Homo sapiens: one gene and its partners. The protein of the gene in region 3 purifies or fractionates together with the protein of the main gene of each other region. This does not show direct contact. Each region holds a gene or a part of one and is shown on either strand. Other genes may lie near its edges.

Region 1 (3,500 bases), on a different chromosome or scaffold from region 3:
CACCCCCCAGCCTGCCTCCGCCAGAGACAGGGTCTTGCTTTGTTGCCCAGACGAGAGTGCAGTAGTGGAATCATAGCTCACTGAAGATTCCAACTCCCGACTCAAGCGATCCTCCACCTCAGCCCAAGTAGCTGGGACTACAGGCATGCACCACCATGCCCAGCTAACTTAAAACACACACTTTTTTTTTTTTTTTAATAGAGAAGGGGTCTCATTTTGTTGGCCAGGCTGGTCTTGAATTCCTGGTGTCAAGTGATCCTCCAGCCTTGGACCCCCAAAGTGCTGGAATTACAGGTGTGAGCCACTGCACCCAGGCCCTATATTCTAATTTGCTACCCTGAGACTCCAAATTAGTAAACCCAAATTACTGGGTAGAGGACAATAAAAGTCTCTGCTCTGTAGTATTATTTTCATTAAAGTCTTCTTTGGCCTGGCACGGTGGCTCACACCTGTAATCCCAGCACTTTGGGAGGCCAAGGCAGGTGGATCACTTGAGGTCAGGAGTTTGGGATCAGCCTGACCAACATGGTGAAACCCGGTCTCTGCTAAAATACAAAAATTAGCCGGGCATAGTGGCAGGCGCCTGTAGTCCCAGCTACTCAGGAGGCTGAGGCAGGAAAATCGCCTCAACTCGGAAGGCAGAGGTTGCAGTGAGCTGAGATCACGCCACTGCACTCCAGCCTGGGCAACAGGGTGAGACTCCATCTCAAAACAAAACAAAAAAAAGTCTTTTACATTACCTGTTACACTGCACATGGGAAGTACGCTATAATCATGCTAGTGGCCTTAAGTTTTGGGAGAAGAGGGAGGAGCCCATTCATTTCCTAATGTTTTGATGGGTAAAAATAATTTTTCATGTTTCATGGGCTTAATAAAGAAGGGACTTACGACACATACTTAATTTAAACTAAGAATACTGAAGGATAAAACAGGCAAACGTAAATCTCCCATTCAATTCATAATTCCCAAACTGCTATGAATTAAATGTGAAGAGCAGGGGAAGTAGGAGATAACAGATAGGTGAAGCCCAATCATTCGACTATCATATGCTCCATCTCCAGCGTGCTCAGGAAATTGATCTCCACCTATCCATTTTTAATTGTCACTGCCTATGGAGCTTTGTGGTGTAAGGGGGAAGAATCAAAGCAGATAAGCACAACAAACCCCAAGCGTTAAAGTATGTAATTGTTGCATGTTCAAGTTATTCACATTTTGTGAATAACATTATCAAGAATAATGAGAGCAATCCATATCAAAGAACACAAGGAACCAGAGAGCTTAAAACATGCCCAGGTTCTACTTCTTAGGTATAAGGATATAATAAACCTAGTATAAAGCCTAGATTATATGTAATCCTGTATGAGACCCACTAGTCTATATTGTAAAGCTTCAATGTTTTTAGCACCCTCTGTGTGGAGGAAAATAATGCAGATTATTCTAATTAGTGTAATATCTAACCACATTAAAATATATTACATAGTAAACTACACTCCATAATTTTATAAATTTGACTCCCCAGGGTAATAAACTAGTCTCTAGTCTGCTCACCTTCAACTGTACAATAAAGTCTTGGTTCTTTTGAAATAGACCTCAAATGAGACACCTAAAATTCAAAGTGTCTTTACATTTAAAGACACCTACAGGAAAGCAGGTAAAAGAGCCAGGTTAAAAACAAATTCTAAAACCACTTAGCTGCAGTTAAACATATAGTAAAGATGCACTAAAGTTTCTTACTCTGTAAATCCCTTCCACTTCAGGAAATATTCCACTTTCCCATTCACTACACGTCGATCTAGTACTTTTTCCACGACAAATTCTTCAGGCTCTGCCTCTTCAACTTTTTTACTCTTTCCATTCTGTTTTTTTCCCATTTTTTGCTAAAATAAAACAAAAGAGAAATTAAGAAATATTCCTCTTGAATTTTGAGCACATTTTCAAGGCTCAATTGCTTATATTATTATCACATTCGACATAAATTTTTACTTCTATATCCCAGGGCAGACACCTTCTGGAAAGATTAAAAGTCAACAGACAATAAAATAAAAGAATGCTTTATCTTGTTCATTTAGTTCAAACTTACAACCCACCACCAAAATAATACAATAAAAAAACACTATCTGGAAACAGTTATTTTTTTCCAGTCTTTTTTTTTGAGACAGGGTCTCACACTCTTGTCGCCCAGGCTGGAGTGCAGTGGCGTGATCTCAGCTCACTGCAACCTCCGCCTCCCCAGGTTCAAGCAGTTCTCATGCCTCAGCCTCCAGAGTAGCTGGGATTATAGGCGGATGCCACCATGCCGGGCTAATTTTTTTTGTGTTTTTATTAGAAACAGGGTTTCACCATGTTGACCAGGCTGGTCTCAAACTCCTGACCTGAAGTGATTCACCAGCCTGGGCCTCCCAAAGTGCTGGCATTACAGGCGTGAGCCACTGCGCCCGGCCCTGTAGTCTTAAAAGACCAAGTTTACTAATTTTCACTCATTTTAACAACACTGCAACAAACAACTATGCAGGAAGTACCTAAAGGGTGATACAGAGAAGCAAGTAGTAGTGACAGGTCTTAGGTGAACCTATGACAGACCTTGTATCCACCCCCAGATGGTAAAAGCCCCAGCCCCCTTCTCAATTCAAATATTAATGTCAAAAGCATCAATGATACAGAGAAAAGATAAATGCAGAATGAAAACATGGTTCAAAATCCTGATACCAACTGCAGGGTCAACTATAGAGACCACTAGGAGGTTCAATTAAAGGACAAGATTATTTTTCCATAATCTCTGTAGATAATATTTCCTACCACTTAGAACAAAACTATAAAGCTATCACTTCAAGAGACCAACATTACAAATTTATTTTAATTCCCTAAGGTGAAAAAAATCCTTCCTTCCTGGTTTCTCAAGAGAAAGTCTATACTGGTAACCAAATTCACTTTAAACAGGCATTTTCTTTGGTATGACACTATTTAAGAGAAGCAGGAAACCAACGTGAACCAGCTCTTTCCAATGGCTCAAGATTTCCTATGAGAGGACTAAAAATGGGGAAAATTTTTATGAGAGGATTAAAAATGGGGGAAAAAAAACCCTGAAATGGTTAATCAGAAGATCCTATGGGCTGAGAAGGAATCCATCTTAACATTTCATCTTAAAGCAAATGCTATTGCCGGGGGCAGTGGCTCATGCCTGTAATCCCAGCACTTTGGGAGGCCGAGGTGGGCAGATCATCTGAGGTCAGGAGTTTGAGACCAGCCTGACCAACATGGAGAAACCCCGTTTCTACTAAAAATACAAAATTAGCCAGGCATAGTGGTGCATGCCTGTAATCCCAGCTACTTGGGAGGCTGAGGCAGGAGAACTGCTTGAACCCAGGAGGCTTAAGTTGCGGTGAGCCAAGATCACGCCATTGCACTCTAGCCTGGACAACAAGAGAAAAACTCTGTCTCAAAAAAACACAAAAACAAAAAACCCAAATACTATTTAAAAAAGATAAACCTTAATTGCTCAA
Region 2 (3,500 bases), on a different chromosome or scaffold from region 3:
ATCAAATACATTTATATCCATGAGAGAGTATGATGATACCAAAAACACCACCCAAGACAAACTGGTCACCTTTAGAGGGTGCTAGCAAACCAACTCATTATTTTAAAAACTGGTAAATAAAGGGGAAAACCAAAACCCAATCATTTATCTTGCCTTTTTCCTTAATACACACTAACTCCAAGGTAACCAAATTGTTGATAAAGAGATGTTCTTTTTTATAGGAATAATCTAGCTAATAAATGGAGAGGGAATGATAAAATTAGAAAATCTTTCAATAGAAAATGAATGAACCCAGGAAATAATCCAGACTGAAAACATCACAAAAACATGAACAACCAGAAAATACTCACCTCTGATAAAAGCTTACAAATTACTTATGAAGTAAAGTTGCCAAGAACATTTAAAAATTTTTAAAAGAAAAAAACAGTGAACCTGAATTTGAATAAGTCTTTAGATCTATAATCAATTCACAGGAGAACTGTGAATAGAAATAGAGAAGCACATTAAATAACACAGGAATGCAACTAGCAAAATCCAGACTGTCGGAAACTTGACAAGACAAAGTAGCCAATTTCGTCAATTAAAAAAAAAAAAAAAAGAACATAAAAGAGATGAAGGGGAATCTATGGATGAAGAGAGACCTGAGAGACCTATCAAACAACTGCAATACATAAATCTTATGTGATCCCTATCTAAATAAACTGTAAAACACCACATAATGCATGTGTAATACTGGGCATTTATAGATAGGTATTAAAACTGAATGCTGAGTACATTAAGTTCATTATGTTATTTTCTCTACTTTCACCTTCATATTGCTCTAGACATTCCTCTTTTCCCATATGTCCACCCAAGCTTTTAAGCAAAATTTGAAGAAAAAGCAGACATAATATAAATAAGTATAACTGTAACATTATGAAACTAATTATTTTGCCATCCTAAATTCAAATAGTGAAAATATGAAAATTAGCTAAAAGATCACCCTCTATTGTGTAATAACCCTTTTTAAGGTTTCAAAGAAACTCCATGAAAACTTACCAGAATCTACCTGTGATGAAAGTATCACCAATGACTGTGATGTTTCTAAATCATAAATTACTGCACTACCAGTGTTGAAAGAGGTTACCATATGAGCTGGATCACAGCCTATAAAGTCAACTGATGTAGGTATTCCATGCTCTGAAATGAGCCCAAAGACAGACAATGTAAACAAAGTAAAATTACTATGAAATCTCTACTTTTTGAAATCTCTGTTTTTCTAATCAGAAAAAGGAATTCAAATAGTCTTGAAATACTGTTAATAATGAAAAGGAACACAACTGTGTCAGGATGGTGAGATAAGAAATATCTTTTCCTCAATTATTTAAAAACTTTATAGCATTCTATTTAATATTGTAAGAAAAATATAACTACAGAGCTCATAAAGAGTAAATACATGCAAAAGTTATTTGTTCTATTACACGTTTTCTTCTAAGGGATTAAATAAAATCCTAGTCTTTTGGCCAATTTGCCAATTATACTTCTTACTGTAAAATGATAAATTAGCATTCTCACATAACTTTGGGAGACTGGTTCACCTATCAGAGATCTGTAGGCCTTATCAAGCAGCTAATACAAGTCAGATTTTTGGACTCATGAAAATGGCTTGGACTCTGGAATCAGCTGATGCAGTACTTTACCCTAAAATGGCCTGAGCAGCAATTTCTCTCTTTAACATACTAAATTAAACTAGCCAGATCAATGCACAATTAGATGGAATATGGAGCCAAGCTATTAACTATCTAGATGAAGCCAGAAACAAATACCTAAATGAATTCTTACCTCTAAAGCTTGGATAACTGAAAATTAGTACAATCACTACGGTGTCTAAGAGACACAAAATTATATATTTACTATTCACCTAAAATGTTTTAAAACAATATGTATTTTTATGTACAAATAAAAGGTCTAATTAAAAAAATTTAAAATGACTTGGAAAATAAGACCAGTAAATGTCTTCAAAAGGTAAACTGGTTAAAGCCTTTTTAAATAGGAAAATATTTAAAATCATGAAAATAACCCAATTTGTACTGTTCCAGTTAGGGGTTCAGTGACTATGGCTGGACTACTCAACTAGTGTGCTCGAGGTAATGGAACACAGGGTTTATAGGTATGCTTGAGACTGTGATCCCTTCGGTCTTTGTGGGGTAGTCGTCTGGAACAGGTGGTGTGCCTCCTGTTGTCCCTATGAGTATCCTCATTTGTCTATTCCACTGTTATATACAATAGTTTTACATTTTTAAAAAATGGAATACAAAAAAGGTAAAAAAGCATTGCACTACAGGACATAGTTGCAAAGCACTTCAAAAAAATGAGTAAAAAGTTTATCCTAACTTTTACAAAATTCATTCAATATATCTCTTTGGAACAGTAAAGAAATACATCAATTACTTTGTCCTTTATATATTCCAATTTTTTAAAAAAACTAACTTTTCTCACAGATGCAAAATTTACTTACTTTTATCTCCATTGTAAGTGCAAATACATGGCAATTTTTCTTGTGGATTCCATAACCTAACAGTGCCATCTGCTGAACAAGACAGTAATTGATTTTTTATGCCACTATAAGCAAGACCCCAAACTGCATCTGTATGACCAACTAAAGTGCCAGCTAGAACATTTGGCTCTGGGGAAAAAACAAACAAACAAAAAATTAGGTAAAAGAAGTTTAAAAGAAACTTTGATACATAAAGAAAACTTACCATATAACTGAGCATAAAGAACACACATAAAGGCCACAAGAAGATAAACTAAAGTGTACATAGTGGCTATATCTAAGAGTAGAGTTATGGCCTACTTTTATACCCTCCTCCCATCAACATTTTTCTGTATTTTCACAATTTTCTATAAAGAAACATATGCTTTTTTTTTTTTTTAAAACAGCTTTCTTGAGATACAGATATAATTTACATACCATACAACTCTCTCATTTAAAGTGTATACTTCAATGATTTTTGGTATGTTGTTCACAGAGTTATACAACCATCATGACAATCAATTTTAGGGTACTTTCATCACTCATTAGTCACTTCCCCCAATTCCTCCTCCCCACCTTTCCACAAGTCTAGGCAACAACTAATGCTCTGTCTCTATAGATGTGTCTTTCTGAACATTTTCTATAAATGGAATCATACAATATGTGGTCTTTTGTGACTGGGTTCTTTCACTGAGTATGTTTTCTTTTTTTCTTTTTGAAATAGGGTCTTGCTCTATCACCCAGGCTGGAGTACAGTGGCATGGTCACAGTCCACTGCAGCCTTGAACTCCTGGTCACTGAACATGTTTTCAAGGTTTATCCATGTTGGAGCATGTATCAGTACTCCATTTATTTTTAGTGCCAAATAATATTCTGCTGTATGGATATACCATATTTTATTTATCTGTTCCTTAACTGACAGACATTTGACAGCTGATAACATTGAGCATAATTTGTCTGACAATCCTGTTTTTCTAGTAAACTC
Region 3 (3,500 bases):
AGAGTAATCAGCCAACAACCCACCCCCCAAACAAGAAAAAAAAAAAAAATCAGTTCTGTTTGAAAGAGATTCCTGTACAGGATAATAAGTTTGTCCAGATAAGGCCAAGCCTGCTGAACCGAATCTTCCTATATTTTATTTATTGGATAAAAAGAATGAAAAAGGCAGATTCCACAAATGACTATAAGAATTTCATGCCAAATACATAATACCGGTCTGAGGACAGAGCAATCATTTTATTTAGATTTTTAAAAAATAAACTAGATAAAGCCATGCAACTATACTTATCTACAGAACAGTAAACAGTGAACTGGCAAGTTTGGGGGAGCTGATCTAGGGTTAAGGGGTTTATATGCAGATCTGAAACATGTTACTTGGGGTTGGGGAGAAGGGTAGGTGACAGAGAAAGCAGGGTGGGAAGGGAAGGGGTGAGGGTGTTGGAAAGGTCTCCTTTGCAAACTAACTCCTAGGCAGTGCTGGTCTAACCCCAGGAAAGCAGCCAGCTGTGGTGCGAGACATACCTCATTAGCAGTGAGCTTGTCCTGGGGTGTCTGTGGGGACATGGTGGGTGTCGGCTGGCTGGAGGATGGGGAGGAGGAGGTGGAGGAAGTGGAGGAGGAATGGCTTTGCTGTAAGAGATCTGGCAAGAGGTGAATGCGACCGGCAAAGCCATTGCTCTCATGATGGCTGGCACGCTTTTGGTCAACTGTACTCTGTAGAAAAAACAGGCACACTTGTCTCGCTCAAGCGCTGCTAAAATTGCCTATGGCCCTATTGATAACTGCTTTAAGGTGCTGTGTGACTTATAAACTCTGCTAAATTACCAAGGAAAAACCAAAGAAATTAGCCTGAACTGCTCACACTTCCTCACCAAATGCCTAACTTGTGCCAACAGAATTCAAAGTACCTAATCTGGTGGCTGCACGGCTCGAGCAGTGAGTGTTTAATCTGGTTTATCTGTTGCGCTAGCTTCTGTTACCAAAACCAGTATCCTTTTTTTTTTCTTTTTAAATCTTTCTTTGCAAAGCTCCAGAAAGTACCTGTGGATTCTCTGAATCCTGGTCTTTTCCACATTCTTCCTACTTTCCATCCGAATGCATTGCCATAGCATGAAACACACTTAGGGCAAAGTCCAAAATACTAAATAGGTGCCCTGTTCTATTTAAATGAGAAGCGTATCACTTTAATTAAGTCTAAGCTAAGAAATGAACAGACAGTTATAAAGCTTAGTGATCCAAACTGAGCATATCTGGGTGGCACACATTTAATTATTCAACAAGTGAGAAAACTAACATTTTGGAACATAGAAGAGAAACCTCCCGAACCCTTCTGCTCTCCGAGTCTCTGGGCCTGTGATGAGGCTCGTCCTGCCTGCCTCACCCGCTCCCACTGTGGCACTGCAGACACTCAGAGCCCAGCGTGCTCTGCAGAGCCATGGTGGCTGCTCTGCCAGACTCCAGACCTGCTTCCTCACTCTGTGAGCCTGTTTAAGGACTCCCTGTGGCTTCTCTCCCGCTCAGACATAGACTGTGAGACTCAGCGCGGTGCTTGAATGAGGGCTGCCGCAGACATGCAGAGGAGCAGCGATGTGGGGTGGAGACTACTCGCTACCTTCTGGGCATGCAGTACACACCTGCCTCCCTAGCCCCCGACACTCGACACTTGACCCTCTGGGACTTGTTAACATGAAAACAGATGATGATGGAGAAACAGCATGAGTGAGTGAATGAGCAAGTGGGTTAATGACCACAGGAGAAGCTCAGCCTCTGACAACAGAGAAGACACGGGTACCTGGCGGACGATTAGAGTGCCCTCCTTGGATGGGGTCATGGCCGGCTCACTTTCTACATCATCATGGACAATCATGGTTTTCACAGATTCCGTTTCACCATTGCTCAAATTCAGAGATGACCTATGGAGAAAAAATCCAGACGTGAAAGGCCTTAATCTCTGGAGTCAAGGAGATCCTGTTTAGGCTTTTCGCCTTCTCAAAATCAAAACATGAGATGAGGCTACCGATATAAAGCCTCCTCCAAAAAAGCAACTGCTTAGCTTTCTCCCTTTAACAAAGAATTTCTTTCCAGTGCCATTTGTTTCTGAGCAAAAACTTAGAATGAATAATTATGGCTAATTAAAGTAGTTATACCAAACTGAAATTTCCCCTGGATCATATATCCTCAAATCAAAAGGAAAAAATAAAGTACACGCTGGGGTGCTGGGGGAAGCACTGACATATGCACACACCAACGAAGAGAAGGGGAAACACAAGGCGACCTGCTGCTGAATCCACGAGAACTACATAGTAAGTGCTCATGGGGTCACGGAATAGTCTAGGAACAACTAGGTCCCAGTGGAAAGCAGGCTCTGAGAGAATACTCTCATCCGCTCTAAAAGAGACCGGGGACTGACGCTGCTCTGGTGTCCTCTGGTCCTGAGGTGGACTCGTCAGCCCCTTCCTGCTCCACATCGTCGTCCTCCTCATCCGTCGTCCCCGACTCCTCACTGGATGAGGAGTAGTCCGTTACTTTGTGAGGTGGCCGTACATCTTCCACTGCTCGAAGCTCTTTGGCCAGTGCGGTCAGATCCTAAAGCAAAGGACAGAAAAGAGAGAGTAAGGCAAGCAGGAGCAGGGACAGGAGAAGATGAGAAGTTCTTTAACCATAAATTGCCACAATGTCAGTTTTGTAAGACTTTTATAGTTACCCAGTTTCATGAGAAAGTGAGCTCCTATGGCTTTTGATAGAAAAGACCAAATAAAGTCAAGAGAGAGATTAAAAAAAAAAAATAGAAGACACCAAAAAAAAGTCAAAGATGTCATATACAGTTCAAATCCCATGACAATAAAAAAAAGATCTGCTTATGTTAAGCTGATAGTATTACTGTTGTTTTTTAATATGAGGTAAAATTCTAGATCAACAAATGTATATACACAGACTCTTGGACTTTGTTGTAAGGAGATCTCCCTACATGACAAAGTCTTCTTTAGACTCATAAAAAAGGTTTTGAGAGACACATTTTTATTTTACTTCAACTTTTATTATTAAAAACTTCAAAGCGCTAAGGTTTAATATTTAATGTTTTTATTTACTAGTTATAGGATATTTATGAAATTTTAGTAATAAATATTAATATTTTACTAAAATCAACATTTTAGGTTTAATATTTTATTAATAAAAGTTGTAGAAACATAACTTCCCTCCCAAAACTCTTTAAATCAGGCTTATTTAACTAGAGGCTTGCTTTCTGGACTGACCCCTTTAAAGAAGACTTTGTCATATAGACATGTGTCTTTACACCAAAGCTCAAGGATCTGTGTATATACATTTGTTGATCTAGAATTTTACCTCATACTGAAAAAAAAAAAACTTCAAACCTACATTAAAATGAAAGGAGTGAAGTGAGCACTAGGATGCCACTGACATCTCACTTCACCGACTGTTCACAACCTGCCACATTCATGGACAAGTCTGTGACACATGAAGAGACACTGCGACCCTGAG
Region 4 (3,500 bases), 4.0 Mb from region 3:
CTGAACCCCTCAGAAACCTTTCCATCCTGGCATGCTGCGAAGGAATTATGTCAGATCATGAACCTAAGGGCTCTTGGTGGCCTAGTGGTGGCTGCGAAAGCCAGCTCTAACCTGAGAAATGCCAAAATGAGCAGGAAAACACATGGGGACGGGGGGAGGCAGTGGATGGTGGGAAAAAAACAAGCAAAGGACTTGTCCACTTGTCCACCAGGACAGGTCCCTGGTAGTCACAGATGACAGCTGAGAACGCCTTGGTTATGAACAGGAAATACAGCAAACCTGGCATGGTTCTGCTGTCAGGAGAAAAGAAGCCACACACACACCTCAGGGCTCTTGCAGAATCCCCATGGAACAAGGCATGCACACTAACAGCTGAAAATGGCCCGTGTCACGGCAAGATCCATCAGGACAAGCTGCCCTGCACAGCATCAGGCCACGTGGAACCTCAGACAAAGACGGTGCTGCTATGTGTGCAGAGCCGATGCAAGTCCCAGTAAAGCTCTTTCCGCCCTATATTCCTAGAATCATATATGTTGTTCCTTGACTTTCTAAGTTAGGAGAGAATGCAAAAAACCCTGAAAGGCCCCCATTAAAAAACTGTTAAAAGGAAATACAAACAATTCGTGCTTTAGTTCTTTAGAAAAAGTTAGCTCATTCTCTAACAATATAAGACAACTGAGACAGTGGGGTGCAGAGTTCTGAGATGAAACCCAGACAATGCATGCATCCCTCCTTATCCAAAGGGACTTGGTCCCTGAATTCAGACAGCAATGACCACCTGTGCATGTTCCACAGAAAAGCCATAGGTCCTCCCTAAGGCCAGCAACCCCGGAGAACACCTTTTTCATCTACCCTCTAAAGTCTTTCCTCTTTTCCCCAAATCTTAGGCAGAAAGAATAATGACTGGGACCAATGTCTCCACACTGCAGGACTTCCTTCTGAGAAGTCTCCTCAAACTCAAAAAATTTTAAGCCAAGATCATATTTTGTGCATTATACTTAGCCCTTAAGGACTCTGGACCAAGCACTTAATATTGTAATTGGTTTTCCAGCGCTTTCTCTAAGTTTCTGCTCGATTGAGTTAAAAGCGCTGCTGTCCTTAATTTGCTTAAGGCTTCAAACACGATCTAAAAGAAGTGGTGCACAGAGCTCTCGTCATGTGAGAACAATTCAATGTGATGTCTTGCCAGGAATGATAAACTCTGGTGACTTGATAAATCTCAGAGTTCAGATTTCAGATGAAGTTAGCTTTCAGCCTGGCATTCCCGTCCAAGCACATGTAAGGCTCCGCAAAATTGATGACACCATAAAGGAGTCCAGTTTCCACCACCACGATGCTCCGTCCTCAAAGAGAGCACATCCCAGTCGCCTCTCTCTGGAGGGCTTTGAATGCCTCTCTGATCAGTCAACAGGACCCTTGAATGAGCACTTATTCATTGTGCCAGTAATCTTTTCAGAGGACAGCAGTGGCAGCAGGTAGTACATACTTACTAGTCTTATAGCGTGCATTTAAAAATGAAATTGAAGCCTCCTAGAACCAATACAATTCAAATACATTAAACTCTATCTCCTAAATGCTTGTTTTGGAAGTCTCTCGATTGTAGAAGGTGTATTCGGAAAGACGTTTGCAAAACTGGTCGAGTATTTCCTTCACACACGAAAAGCCTGCCTTCTGGGATGCAGGCTTGACCCCATGCCTGAAACTCACCGCCCCCAGCCTGCCCACCGCTGAACTGGGTCTGCTGCCCCAGTCGAGTGGCCTCATATCTCCGACTCACTGCACACAAACAAAACTCATCTCTCCCAAGAACCCCTGTTTTCTTTTCAATTTATCTCGTAAGTGCTTTAAAAGCTTTTGAGAGATGAACTCAGTGGCGCTGCCTGCCGTGGCAATGACCTTGGGATTATATGGTTTACAAAGAGAAAGCAAGCAAACAACAAAAGGAGGTGTCAGAAACCAGCCACCAGTCTTGCAAAGAATGCTTTCTCTGGGACACAGACCGAATAGAAACAAAGTAAATCACTCGGGCCTTCTACGTACACAGAATGGGCAACCAGGAGAGAAAATGATGTTTGAGCCTGTGAAATACAAGAGGGGGAATCTTGGGAGAGAAGCAGAACCACCTCTGTGAGCTAAAAACATCTTTTTAGTTAATCTCCCACCTCCAGAAATGGACACCCACTATCCCCAAAACAGATGCAAGTAAATCACGGAGTAGCAAACATTATACTAAATTGCATTCATCTGCGTCTCCCGCTCTTTCTAGTGTACTCACACAATGTGAAAAGGGCGCGGCACACAGACCCACCGCGCAAGGCGCATTTACTGCCTGCAGCCGGAGCTGTGGGCGCAGCGCACTTACCGAGGACTCGCTGTCCCTAATGAGGAAGTCGCCCTCCACGCCCCGCTCGTTGAGGGCGCACTCGGCCTGGTGCCGCGTCACGTTCCCGTAGTACCACTCTCTGCCCGCGAAGCGCCCGCTGGACGAGGGCCCGGTGTAGCTTATCTGTGGGGCGTGCGCAGGGTGCAGGGCAGGCCCGTCACTGAGGACCACCACGTAGTTTTTGGGGACGAGGCCCACCTGGCCCCGGGCATTTTTGCATTTCCACCACTCGGGGTCGTTCTCCGGCTTCTCAATCACCTCCATGGTCTCCCCCTTCTCGAAGTTGAGCTCCTCCTCGGTGACTGAGCTGAAGGGGTACAGCGTCTGGACCACATGCAGCACGCGGGAGCCCTGGCCATTGCTCAGCGAGGCGCCCTTGCGCAGGCTCAGGAAGCTTGGGGACTCCGCAGCCGCCTCGTCCACCTCCTCCAAGACGTAGTTGGAGGGGAACCAGCCGATCTGCCCGTTGTAGCTGCCCCGCCACCAACCGTCGCTGCACTTCTCCATGACGGTGACGCGCGACCCCTTCACCAGGGACAACTCATCCTCCCGCTCGGCCACATAGGCGAACTTGACGAAGGCCGGGATGTTGAGGTCGTAGATGCGGTCGGCGCCGCTGCCATTGGCGGGGTACTCGGCGTCCGTGCTGGGCGTGGGGGACGCATCCCGCGCGCTGGTCTTCCTGCGCGTCTTGCCGAGGCCTGTGGAGACACAGCAAGGCTCAGTGGCGCAGGGCACTTGGGCACCACCACACTCCCTAGCCTACCGGGATTTCCACGCAGTTTCTCTGGCGGTTAAATACAAGGGGACGACACATGGACAGTGCTTACAAACTGTAATTACCATGAGAAAAATACGGTTGCTGGCAGCTGCCTCCTGTAGTTGCGAAGTTACTTAAAGTTGAGAATTAAATTGATCTATTTTATCCATAAAAACATGTCACAGGGCCAGCACAGTGGCTCACGCCTGGAATCCCAGCCTTTGAGAGGCCCAGGCGGGAAGATTGCTTGAGGCCAGGAGTCTGAGACCAGCCTAAGCAACATAGCGAGACCGTGTCTGCAAAAAAAAAAAAAAAAAAAAAAAAAAAAAAAATTAGCCACCTGTGGTGCACATCTGT

What was found.
Region 1: the proteins of MAP4K4 (region 3) and CBX3 purify together in Homo sapiens (affinity purification with mass spectrometry; one large-scale study listed by BioGRID and IntAct). This does not show direct contact.
Region 2: the proteins of MAP4K4 (region 3) and STRN3 purify together in Homo sapiens (affinity purification with mass spectrometry; 4 studies listed by BioGRID and IntAct, with this or other methods). This does not show direct contact.
Region 4: the proteins of MAP4K4 (region 3) and NCK2 purify together in Homo sapiens (affinity purification with mass spectrometry; 2 studies listed by BioGRID). This does not show direct contact.

The regions. Positions count from the first base shown.
Region 1 is NC_000007.14:26,204,745-26,208,244, reverse strand, and holds part of CBX3 (chromobox protein homolog 3), read right to left. Parts: intron 1,878-3,500; coding exon 1,735-1,877; intron 1-1,734.
Region 2 is NC_000014.9:30,904,380-30,907,879, forward strand, and holds part of STRN3 (striatin-3), read right to left. Parts: intron 2,666-3,500; coding exon 2,498-2,665; intron 1,180-2,497; coding exon 1,039-1,179; intron 1-1,038. UniProt on the Homo sapiens protein: Calmodulin-binding scaffolding protein which is the center of the striatin-interacting phosphatase and kinase (STRIPAK) complexes.
Region 3 is NC_000002.12:101,868,707-101,872,206, reverse strand, and holds part of MAP4K4 (mitogen-activated protein kinase kinase kinase kinase 4), read right to left. Parts: intron 2,586-3,500; coding exon 2,410-2,585; intron 1,913-2,409; coding exon 1,792-1,912; intron 714-1,791; coding exon 522-713; intron 1-521.
Region 4 is NC_000002.12:105,880,912-105,884,411, reverse strand, and holds part of NCK2 (cytoplasmic protein NCK2), read right to left. Parts: intron 3,085-3,500; coding exon 2,363-3,084; intron 1-2,362. UniProt on the Homo sapiens protein: Adapter protein which associates with tyrosine-phosphorylated growth factor receptors or their cellular substrates. Maintains low levels of EIF2S1 phosphorylation by promoting its dephosphorylation by PP1.